2 linked regions of the Homo sapiens genome follow. The protein of the gene in region 1 purifies or fractionates together with the protein of each later gene. This does not show direct contact. Each region holds a gene or a part of one and is shown on either strand. Other genes may lie near its edges.

The links.
Region 2: the proteins of RAB35 (region 1) and GDI1 purify together in Homo sapiens (affinity purification with mass spectrometry; 4 studies listed by BioGRID and IntAct, with this or other methods). This does not show direct contact.

The regions. Positions count from the first base shown.
Region 1 is NC_000012.12:120,106,534-120,113,817, reverse strand, and holds part of RAB35 (ras-related protein Rab-35), read left to right. Parts: intron 1-5,350; coding exon 5,351-5,401; intron 5,402-7,284. UniProt on the Homo sapiens protein: The small GTPases Rab are key regulators of intracellular membrane trafficking, from the formation of transport vesicles to their fusion with membranes.
Region 2 is NC_000023.11:154,439,870-154,443,967, forward strand, and holds the end of GDI1 (rab GDP dissociation inhibitor alpha), read left to right. Parts: intron 1-71; coding exon 72-270; intron 271-505; coding exon 506-637; intron 638-1,226; coding exon 1,227-1,326; intron 1,327-1,753; coding exon 1,754-1,925; intron 1,926-2,241; coding exon 2,242-2,386; intron 2,387-2,504; coding exon 2,505-2,559; intron 2,560-2,650; coding exon 2,651-2,803; 3' UTR 2,804-3,598; downstream 3,599-4,098. UniProt on the Homo sapiens protein: Regulates the GDP/GTP exchange reaction of most Rab proteins by inhibiting the dissociation of GDP from them, and the subsequent binding of GTP to them. Promotes the dissociation of GDP-bound Rab proteins from the membrane and inhibits their activation.

The sequences.
Region 1 (7,284 bases):
GAGACGGAGTCTCGCTCTGTCGCCCAGGCTGGAGTGCAGTGGCGCGATCTCGGCTCACTGCCGGCTCCACCTCCCCGGTTCACGCCATTCTCCTGCCTCAGCCTCCCGAGTAGGTGGGACTACAGGTGCCCACCACCATGCCCGGCTAATCTTTTGTATTTTTAGTAGAGACAGGGTTTCACCATTTTAGCCAGTATGGTCTCTATCTCCTGACCTCGTGATCCGCCCGCCTCGGCCTCCCAAAGTGCTGGGATTACAGGCGTGAGCCACCGCGCCCGGCCAGTTCTGTATTTTCTATACTTTCCCTTATACTCTCTGACACTGGCTTTGATTTGTAACAGCATGTCGTCTGCATCCCTCAGGCCAGCCATCCTCATTTGGAGATGGAGTTAGCCCTTCACTTGACAGATGAGTAAATTGAGGCTCAGAGAGGGGGCGTGACTTGTGTGAGGTTATACAGTGAGGTGGTGGCTGAGGCAGGTTTAAAATTGAGAACATGGCTGGGGGCAGTAGTTTGTCCTAGTGCTTTGGGAGGATGAGGCGGGAGGAACACTTGAACTCGAGACCATAGTGAGAGCAACATAGTGATAGCGAGACCCCATCTCTTAAAAAAAAAAAAAAAAAAAGGCCGGGCACAGTGGCTCACACCTGTAATCCCAGCACTTTGGGAGGCCGAGGTGGGCAGATCACCTGAGGTCAGGAATTCGAGACCAGCCTGGCCAACATGGTGAAACCCTGTCCCTACTTAAAACACAAAAAATTAGTTGGGTGTGGTGGTACGCACCTGTAATCCCAGCTACTCGGGAGGCTGAGGCAGGAGAATCATTTGAACCCAGGAGGCGGATGTTGCAGTGAGCCGAGATCGTGCCACTGTACTCCAGCCTGGGGGACAAGAGCGAGACTTCATCTCAAAAAAAAAAAAAAAATCAGTTGGGCGTGGTGGTGCACATCTATAGTCCCAGCTATGTGGGAGGCTGAGACAGGAAGATTGTTTTAACCCAGGAGTTCAAAGTTACAGGGAGTTAGGATCACACAACTGCACTCCAGCCTGGGTGACAGAATGAGACACTGTCTCAAAAAAAAAAAAAGGTCCAGGCACGGTAGCTCACACCTGTAATCCCAGCACTTTGGGAGGCCGAGGTGGAGGATCACTTGAGCCCAAGAGTTTGAGACCAGCCTGGGCAACATAGGGAGGCCCTGTCTCAACAAAAAGAAGAAAATTAGCAGGGCATGGTGGTGCACGCCTGTGGTCTCAGCTACTTGGGAGGCTGAGGTGGGAGGATCTCTTGAGTCTGGGAGGTTGAGACTGCAATGAGCTATGATCACGCTGCTGCACTTTAGCCTGAGCAACAGAGCAAGATCCTGTTTCAAAAAAAAAAAAAAATATCGAGAACAGTTCACTGAAAGGTCAGGGCTCTTCAAGAGGTTGAACTGAAGCAGAGAGGAGTGAGGGGGCCATAGCCCAGGCAGGAGCAGGAGGAAGGGAAGACATGTGTGTGGCTTGCGTGGTGAGGACCAGATACAGCAGCCAGGGGTAAAAGGCCGGGAGCAGTAGCTCACTCCTATAATCCCAGCACTTTGGGAGGCCGAGGCAGGCGGATCACTTGAGGTCAGGAGCTCGAGACCAGCTTGGCCAATGTGGTGAAACCCTGTCCCTACAAACAATACAAAAAATTAGCTGGGCGTGATGGCGGGCGCCTGTAATCCCAGCTACTCCGGAGGCTGAGGCAAGAGAATCGCTTGAATCTGGGAGGTGGAGGTTGCAGCCAAGATCGCGCCACCGTACTCCAGCCTGGGCGACAGAGTGAGACTCCATTTAAAAAAAAAAAAAAAAGAATGACAGGCTGGACTGGTTGGGGTCATGCTGATGTGCCCTTGGGCAGCCTCGGGGGTGGCTGTGGTGAAGGTTGGTGGGTGCCCTCTGCTCCTGCCCTGACACTGATGGTGTGGGGTAATGGCTGCAGCTTGTGTTTCCGAGGAAGCCTCTTCCAGGGATATTTAGGAGGTAGTGTTTCTTGGGGTGGGTTTCTGTTCCTCTCAAAGGGAGAGCAGTGTCAGAGGTTGGTGTCAGGTCCAAAGCAGCAGATAATGTGGTGATGGTTGTGGTCTTTCTGCAGCCTAGTGGCTTTTTTTTTTTGAGATGGAGTCTCGCTCTGTCGCCCAGGCTGGAGTGCAGTGACACGATCTCAGTTCGCTGCAACCTCCGCCTCCTGGGTTCAGGCGATTCTCCTGCCTCAGCCTCCCGAGTAGCTGGGATTACAGGCACGCACCACCACGCCCGGCTAATTTTTGTATTTTTACTAGAGGTGGGGTGTTCATCATGTTGGCCAGGATGGTCTCGATCTCTTGACCTCGTGATCTGCCCACCTCGGCCTCCCAAAGTGCTGGGATTACGGGTGTGAGCCACTGCGCCTGGCCAGCCTAGTGGCTTTTAACTGCTCTGCCGAGACGCCTGGGGACAGTATGGGGACCTGGAGAGGCCAAGCTGGAGGGGATACTGCTGTGTCATTGCAGAGAGAGCTGTTTTACACATGGGATTTGGGTAAAGCTTGGATGAAGAAAAGGATTCTGCTGCCCTGCAGAAGTTTGGAAACCCCTGCTTAGGCGCCTGCTGTGCTGCAGTGGGAGCGCTGGATAGCAGAGCTGTCAGTGTGGCGGGCGTTCGTTTAGGCAGAAATTCATTAAGCAGTGTTTGGTTGGCACCTACTAAGTGCTGGGCCTGGCTTACAGCACTGTGAATGCACAGGGCGGGTGAGGCGAGGGCTCTGTCCTAGAGGAACTCCCAGACTCAAGCTTTTAGCTGAGTAAGCTGGACCCAGAAGGCTCCAGGAGGAAGCAGAGGAGGCGGCGAGGCCAGTGGGGTGCTGGTGTTGGGCACAGCGCCGTGAAGGACCCAACCCGGGACTCGGGCTCTCCTTGAGCTCAGCAGGAAGCCTCACGGCGGAGCAAGGAGGAAGTGGCCCTGAGCATGAGCCCTGCAGGCCCAGGCTGAGCAGCGTCTGCCTGCCCAGGAGAGCCTCACCCTGGCCTGTCTTTAGGAAAGTAGGACCCAGGCTTACTCAGTGAAACAAGTTCTTCTGGGCATCGTGGGGCAGCTCACTCACCAGGAGAAGCTCCCAGAAGAGATCTTTAGAGGATTGCCCAGAGAGGATGCTGGGGTTAGGCTTAGGGAAATACAACTGCGACAGTGGTTTTCCGCTTTGGTTACTTGGTAGAGTGCAGGTGGAGGCAGTGCCCTTCTTGAGAATCTATTAAAATTGTGGAGCCAAATGCAGTGGCTCAGGCCTGTTAGCCCAGCACCTTGGGAGGCAGAAGCGGGCAGATTGCTTGAGGCCAGGAGTTTGAGACCAGCCTGGGCAATATAGTGAGAGGCCATCTCTACAAAAAATTTTTAAAGAGTTTGCTGGGTGTGGTGGCGAACACCTGTAGTACTTGGGGATTTCAAGGTTAGAGTGAGTTATGATCGCACCACTGCCCTCCAGCCTGAGAGACAGAGTAAGGCCCTATCTCTCCAAAAAAAAAAAAAATGCTGTGGGCTTCTCCCATGAACAGACACCTAGGCTCAAATCTGCACTTTGTTTCAGGGGGTTTCATAGCTTTCGTGGCATTTTCATTAAAAATCTAACAGGAGTGAGATGTTGGAGCCCCCACAGGTCATTTTTTCCAAACTTCCTGAACCAGACGCAAGACTCCCAGCAATGTGTATTGGGAGGAGTGTTAGCACTCTGGAGGAGTCCGGCCTGGATGCAGATCTCAGCTTTACTGCTGCTCACAGAGGCACTTAGGCCGGCCACTCTGGGCCTGAGGTTCCTCATCTCAAGAGATGTGGCCAGAATTATAATCAAAGAGGCATCCAAGGGCTCACCACACACACAGCCCGATGCATGTGAATTCTTTGTGGTCAATTAACTTGGCTGGCCTCAGGGGTGTTGGAGATTGGGGACAGGATAGGAGGACATGGAACAGGTGTACTTGGCAGGCTGAAAGCACTGTGAGTTGAAGTCAAGGGGAGAGGTCCAGGCGCAGTGGCTCATGCCTGTAATCCCAGCGCTTTGGGAGGCCCAGGCGGGAGGGTTGCTTGAGGCCAGAAGTTTGAGACCAACTTGGGCAACATAGCAAGACCTCGTCTCTACAAAAGATTAAAAAAAAAAAAAAAAAAAGCCTGGGCAACGTAGCCAGACTCTGTCCCTACTAAAAATAAAAAAATTAGCTGGGCATGATGGTATGCACATGTGGTCCCAGCTACTCGGGAGGCTGAGGTCAGAGGATCACTTGAGCCTAGGAGTTGGAGGCTGTGGTGAGACATGATTGCACCATTGTACTCCAGCCTGAGTGACTGAATGAAACCCCATTTTTTTTTTTTTGAGACAGAGTTTCGCTCTTGTTGCCCAGGCTGGAGTGCAGTGGCATGATCTCAGCTCACTGCAACCTCCGCCTCCCGGGTTCAAGTGCTTCTCCTGCCTCAGTCTCCCGAGTAGCTGGGATTACAGGCATGTGCCACCACGCCCAGCTAATTTTGTATTTTTAGTAGAGACGGGGTTTCTCCATATTGGTCAGGCTGGTCTTGAACTCCCGACCTCAGGTGATCCGCCTGCCTCGGCCTCCCAAAGTGCTGGGATTACAGGCATGAGCCACCGCGCCTGGCCTGAAACCCCATTTCTTTACAAAAAAAGTGGGGGAGGCCAGATGTGTACATGTTTGTGCTCTAAGCAGCCAGGAGCTGCTGTGGCTGGTGCATGGTCTGAGCACATGTGGGCTGCTGCCCTGATGGGTATAAGGCAGACCCTCCACTCCACCAGCCCACCCGGCGGGGACATCAGCCAGAAAGATGGTAGCCATTGAGTTCTAGCTATGTGGGCCTTGGTTTCCTCACCTGCAAAATAGCCCTGATGATCTCAAGGGTCCTTTCCCGCTCTACAGCTCTTCATTTTGGGCGGCTCCCTAACTGATGTGCTACAACGTGCTGTGCACTTTTCTAGGGACCATGTTGTAGACGCACTTGGGGGCCGTTTCGTGTGGTTGACCTTCATTCTGCTTTGTCGTCTGGCATCTCCCTTTGGGCCAGCCCTCAGCCTAGGGCCTGGGCACCAGTCCCTTTCTCATCTCTCCCCCAGGGGATTTGGGAGCAGCTTGTCTTACACAAGGACGAAGGAAAAGGTCAGGGATCGAGTGGAAGAGATGTTCTTGGTGTGTGGCCGCTCAGGGAGGTGGAAAGAGCATTGAGAAGTGAGCTGGGTCCCACCGAGCTTCTTAAGAGTTGGGACTGAGGCATCCTCTCCCGGAAGAAGGGCTGGGGCTGCGGGGAGGGGACCCACCTGCCCCCCTCATCGCAGTGCTTTCTCTCTTGCAGGTGTGGGCAAGAGCAGTTTACTGTTGCGTTTTGCAGACAACACTTTCTCAGGTGAGTCCTCCCCTGCAGTGCTGCTGGGGTGTCGTTTTTGTTTGTTTGTTGACATCCCCTCCCTGGCACCAAACAGAGTTGCCTCTGCCTGATGTTGGGAACTGTCTCATTCTGGTTGCCAGAGGAGGGAAGAAGATGGAGTGGGGCTTAGGACCTTGTGGCGCTTCTGTCAGAAGCCTCTGTGGTCTGTCTAATGCACCTGCTCACGAAAACCCTTTGGCTGGCCCATCATTTTCCCACCCATGGTCCAAACAGGAAGGTTCCCATAACAGCGTCTATGGTGCCACCCGGGACACAGTCCCTGCTCCTGCCCCCTATGCCTCCCTGGCAGCCTGTGGTCAGCGTGTGTCTTTCTGATTTCTTTCTGCGCTCCACATGCAGGCCTTTGTGGTTCATCTGAGTGCGGTGGGCTTTCTGTGCTTGAAGGCACCACATGGTGCACTGACGCTGCTGTTACATCGTGCCTGACTTCTGGTTGTGTTTTCAGCGATGCTTAGCTACTTGGGATATAGGCGATATTTATTCTTTTTTTTTTTTTTTTTTTTTTTTTGAGATGGAGTCTTGCTCTGTCACCCAGGCTGGAGTGCAGTGGCGCGATTTCGGCTCACTGCAACCTCTGCCTCCTGGGTTCAAGCAATTCTCCTGTCTCAACCTCCCAAGTAGTTGGGACTATAGGCACCTGCCACCACGCCCGACTAATTTTTATATTTTTAATAGAGATGGGGTTTCACCATGTTGGTCAGGCTGGTCTCGAACGTCTGACCTCAGGTGATCCACCCACCTTGGCCTTCCAAAGTGCTGGGATTACAGGCGTGAGCCACTGCGCCCAGCTGATACTTATTCTTGTGCACGTGTTTCTGTAGAAGTGGGGTTACTGGCTTACAGGGTGTATGCACTGAGAATTTTCATAGGTACTGCCAACCTGCTTTTCAAAGAAGCTGGAGTCATTTAATCCAGTCCCACTGAAGGGTGGAAAGTGCCCCTTGTCAACCCTGGTCAGTGCTGGATCTTAGTAGCTGTCTTCATTCTTGCTGAGCTGATAGGCAAAAAGGGCTAACTTGTTTACATTTGTATTTCCCTAATCACTGGTAAGATGGAACACATTTTTGTTTGTTAAATACATCAGGTTCAGCCGGGTGCGGTGGCTCACACCTGTAATCCCAGCACTTTGGGAGGCCGAGGCGGGTGGATCATGAGGTCAGGAGTTCGAGACCAGCCTGACCAACATGGTGAAACCCCGTCTCTACTAAAAATACAAAAATTAGCTGGGCGTGGTGGTGCATACCTATAATCCTAGCGACTGGGGAGGCTGAGGCAGGAGAGTTGCTTGAATCCGGGAGAGGGAGGTTGCAGTGAGCTGAGATGGCACCACTGCACTCCAGCCTGAACGACAGAGCGAGACTCCATCTCAAAAAACAACAAAAAAAATCAGGTTCATTACAGATGCTTTGGGTGGGGTTGACATCTCTGATTATCTTGTGGAGAATTCCCTCTGACATGGCTGGGCTGCCTTTAGAAAGTGATTCCGTTGGCCAGGCGCGGTGGCTCACGCCTGTAATCCTAGCACTTTGGGAGGCCGAGGCGCGTGGATCATGAGGTCAGGAGATTGAGACCATCCTGGCCAATATGGTGAAACTCTGTCTCTACTAAAAATAAAAAAATGAGTTGGGTGTGGCGGCATGTGCCTGTAATCCCGGCTACTCAGGAGGCTGAGGCAGGAGAATCGCTTGAACCAGGGAGTTGGTTGCAGTGAGCCGAGATCTTGTCACAGCACTCCAGCCTGGCGACAGAGTGAGACTCCGTCTCAAAAAAAAAAAAAAAAAAAGAAAAAGAAAGTGATTCCATAGCTGATGTCTCTTGGTGGAGAAGTGGGTTTTGCCCCC
Region 2 (4,098 bases), on another chromosome or scaffold:
GTGCCTGCCCTGCTGGGATGGAGAGTTTTGTGCTGCATTGATGCAGAACCTCCTCCCGCCGCGTTCCTTAGATCTGATGGGCATGTTTGAGAAACGGCGCTTCCGCAAGTTCCTGGTGTTTGTGGCAAACTTCGATGAGAATGACCCCAAGACCTTTGAGGGCGTTGACCCCCAGACTACCAGCATGCGTGACGTCTACCGGAAGTTTGATCTGGGCCAGGATGTCATCGATTTCACTGGCCATGCCCTGGCGCTCTACCGCACTGATGAGTGAGGGGAAGCTGGGTGGTGGCAGCCCCCTCGCCCGGCCCGCCCCCACCCTTCCCACACCTGCCTGCTGTCCCCCTGCCCCGCATGTCTCTTGTACTCAGCCACAGGCTCACCTATCACCCTTTCCATTTCCCCCTTGCATTTGATCCTCATCTTCCCCAGGCCATTCAGGGTGGTGGGAAGACTGGCCTGGTACCTGGGTGGGGGTAAATCAGGGGTGCTGCTATTCCCCCAGCTACCTGGACCAGCCCTGCCTTGAGACCGTCAACCGCATCAAGTTGTACAGTGAGTCCCTGGCCCGGTATGGCAAGAGCCCATATTTATACCCGCTCTACGGCTTGGGCGAGCTGCCCCAGGGTTTTGCAAGGTGAGGACATGGGTTTTTTCAGTTGGCATAGCTGAGTAGGACTAGGGCCAGGAGTGGAGATGGCCGCCTTGAGCATTTTCTTGGTAGTATTTCCTCCTTTCCAATTCGTGCTCTTCATTTACTTCACTCCATCCTTGGGTGATGAGGGCACAACCCCAGTGCACTGAAGTACAGAAGTCTCCACACTTGAAAAAACGAGTCTCCACAAATGTGACTTGCTCAGTTCCCGGCAGCACCAGGACTGGGCCCAGGGTCCCAGAACCTTGAGTCAGGGCTTAGCTGGGAGCTGACCTATCTCCAGAGAGTCCATTCTGGTCCCTCAGGCTGTCTTGGTGCGGAGCACTGATCCCTCATGCCCCCTCCCGCTGGCCCTTGGCAGTGTATTCTGAGCAGAAGCTCCAGAGAGGAAAGAGCCCGCGGAGATGGGGCCAGCGTTCACGGCAGTGACAGAGCTGGGATGAATCCCGGCGTCTCCTACCTGCTGCCTGCCTGGGGCAGCCTTCTTTGCACTTTGGTGGAGGAAGGGTGCAGTGGAATTGGTCCCCGTTTCTCCTGGGAGGGGCCTTCACCGGAGCTGCTCTCACCACAGATTGAGTGCCATCTATGGGGGGACATATATGCTGAACAAACCTGTGGATGACATCATCATGGAGAACGGCAAGGTGGTGGGCGTGAAGTCTGAGGGAGAGGTGAGCCCTTCCCGTGCATGCAGTGCAGTCCCATGGTTGAGGCGGGGCTTGGTCACTTTCTCTGTGCTGTCGAGTCTCCTGCTGCACAGCCCCAAGGGTCTTGGAGCTGGGAACTGGGGGTCCAGAAGTCTTCAGAGTCATGACTGTGGGTGAGAGGTCTCTTTCAGAGGCCACATGCCATGTCTGTGGTGCAGAAAGTGTTCTTGATCACAGTGCCTCTGGGGGGCGGGGGGGCGGGCACCCAGCCCGTGCGTCAAGGCCCACCTATCTGAGCGGCAGGGTAGGGCCATGCATTCAGGAGGGGCAGTAGTGATGGCTCCGAGGAACGTCTTGTCTGCCAGAGCTGCCTGCCCTTGCTGTGAGCGCAGCCCCACGTCTACCTAAGGGAGGGATGTGACAGGGGCGAGGACTTCTGGTGCCTTCTCAGGTGGCCCGCTGCAAGCAGCTGATCTGTGACCCCAGCTACATCCCGGACCGTGTGCGGAAGGCTGGCCAGGTTATCCGCATCATCTGTATCCTTAGCCACCCCATCAAGAACACCAACGACGCCAACTCCTGCCAAATAATCATCCCCCAGAACCAGGTCAACAGGAAGTCAGGTAGGCCGGGCGCTGGTACAGCTTCCTCTAGGGTGTTCTCTTTGGGGTTACTCTTTTTCTCCCCATCAGTGTGGGAGCTCCCTGCCTTACCTCTCTGGAAAAAAATTTGAGCCACATTGTAGCCACCACAACTTGGAGCCCTAGGGTTTGGGTGGCCTGGACTCTTTCCCTCTGGGAGGGTGGCGGCTTGGATGCTACCTGCTCTGCGGGGCTGGGGAGGGGCAGTCGGGCCAGACTTGTGTCCAGCCACTGGAACCCCTCTCTGCGTATGGCCAGCGCCTCTGGCCTGAGTTGACGGAGCTCTTCCTGTGGCCAGACATCTACGTGTGCATGATCTCCTATGCACACAACGTGGCGGCCCAGGGCAAGTACATAGCTATTGCCAGCACTACTGTGGAGACCACGGACCCTGAAAAGGAGGTGGAGCCGGCTCTGGAGCTGTTGGAGCCCATTGACCAGAAGTGAGGGACTGGGCTGAGCCCAAGGGGGAGAGGGAGGGAGCCCAGCAGCTGGGCTTAGGGACCAGGAAGGGCATGGCCCATTGTGAGGCCTGTCCCCTCCCCTCTGTCTGCCCCTCAGGTTTGTGGCTATCAGTGACTTGTATGAGCCCATTGATGATGGTTGTGAGAGCCAGGTAAGCAGCTCGTCCCAGCCCTGGGCTCCTGGCTGCCCGCCCAGGATACCTGTCTGACTCACCCTGGGCGCTGGGCTCTGGCTGTTTCCAGGTGTTCTGTTCCTGCTCCTACGATGCCACCACACACTTTGAGACAACCTGCAACGACATCAAAGACATCTACAAACGCATGGCTGGCACGGCCTTTGACTTTGAGAACATGAAGCGCAAACAGAACGACGTCTTTGGAGAAGCTGAGCAGTGATTGTGGCCGCCCCCAGCCCCTGCTGCCCCAGCCTGTGTCTGTTCTCCTCGAGGGCTCCAGCATCCTCTGCTTCCCCCACCACGTTCCCATCACCCACCTCATTGATCCACTGACCAAATCCTTAACCCTAGCGATGGCTTGGGAGATGGGGGGTTGGATAGCATCCTCTTTCTTGGCCCTTCCTTATCCTAGGAAAAGAGGGTTCCTCTCCTTGTGTGTGTCTCTTCCCCCCACCCCTAATTCTTCTGCTCTGTTTGGGAAGACGTGGAGGAAAAGGTGACTTCTGCCCCCACCGCTCTTACCCCCACTGTAGTGGCCTTTGGAGATGCCCCCACCTCCCCCCCACCAACTCTCGCGTGTTGGAGAGAAGGGGCCCTCCCAGCACAAAGTTGCATTCCTCCCCCCTAATTTATTCTAATTTATTAACTTTGACCCACCCTTTCTGAGCCTGCAGCCTTCCCGTGTGGCCTGAGGGCTGTCGAGTGAGCTGCCCCAGCCCCTCCCAGCCCTTGCCCAGCCTGGGGGAGTGGGGAAGGCTTGGGCATGGCCCCGTTGGAGGTTGATTTGCTGTTTTGTTTCTTGTCTTTGTGTTCTGTGGTACTTGCTGAGAGAAAAGAAAAGTGAGCCAAGCAGAAGGAGGTGGGAAAACGGACCCAAACCCCAGTGTGCCCTGCCCCATGCCTTTCCTTTAGTGGTGGGAAACCCTTATCTTGCAAAGTGAATGTGTCCCCTTCCCCACCCTCTAGTGTATTTCACAGAAAACAAAACCTCCCAATAAAACGGTTGAAACCTGAATCTCTGGATCTTGATGGTTATCTCCCAAAAGCTGGGTACCTGGCAGGGCTTTGGCTGCCTGGGTTGGGGCTCTGGCTTAGCTTCACTCTGGACTGTAAAAGGTGGCATTCTTCACCAGGGAATTCCTCACCCAGAGCACGCTGGGGCCAAATTGACTTAAAGCTTAAGGCTACCCAGTGAGTCGATGCTGGCACCAGGACTGCAGCCCTCAGTGCTCAATGCAGGGGGAGTGTGGTGGAGGGCGGGTGTCAACGTGGAGGAAGCAGAGGGAGCGGGGGTCCTGGCCTCTGGCTTGAAAGGAGAGGGCAGAGGGGACCAGGGGCCAGCCTCGGATGGGATTCTAAGTGAAGCAGGGAGACGGGTGCCAGTTTTCGGCTTAATGCGGGGGAACTAGGGCAGCCAGGGGACCAGCGTTGGGGTCACCAGGAGGAATTAGAGGGACCGGGGCCCAGCCTTGGCTCGGGTTAACGTCGAGGCAGCGCGAGGGGCTGGGGAATTCA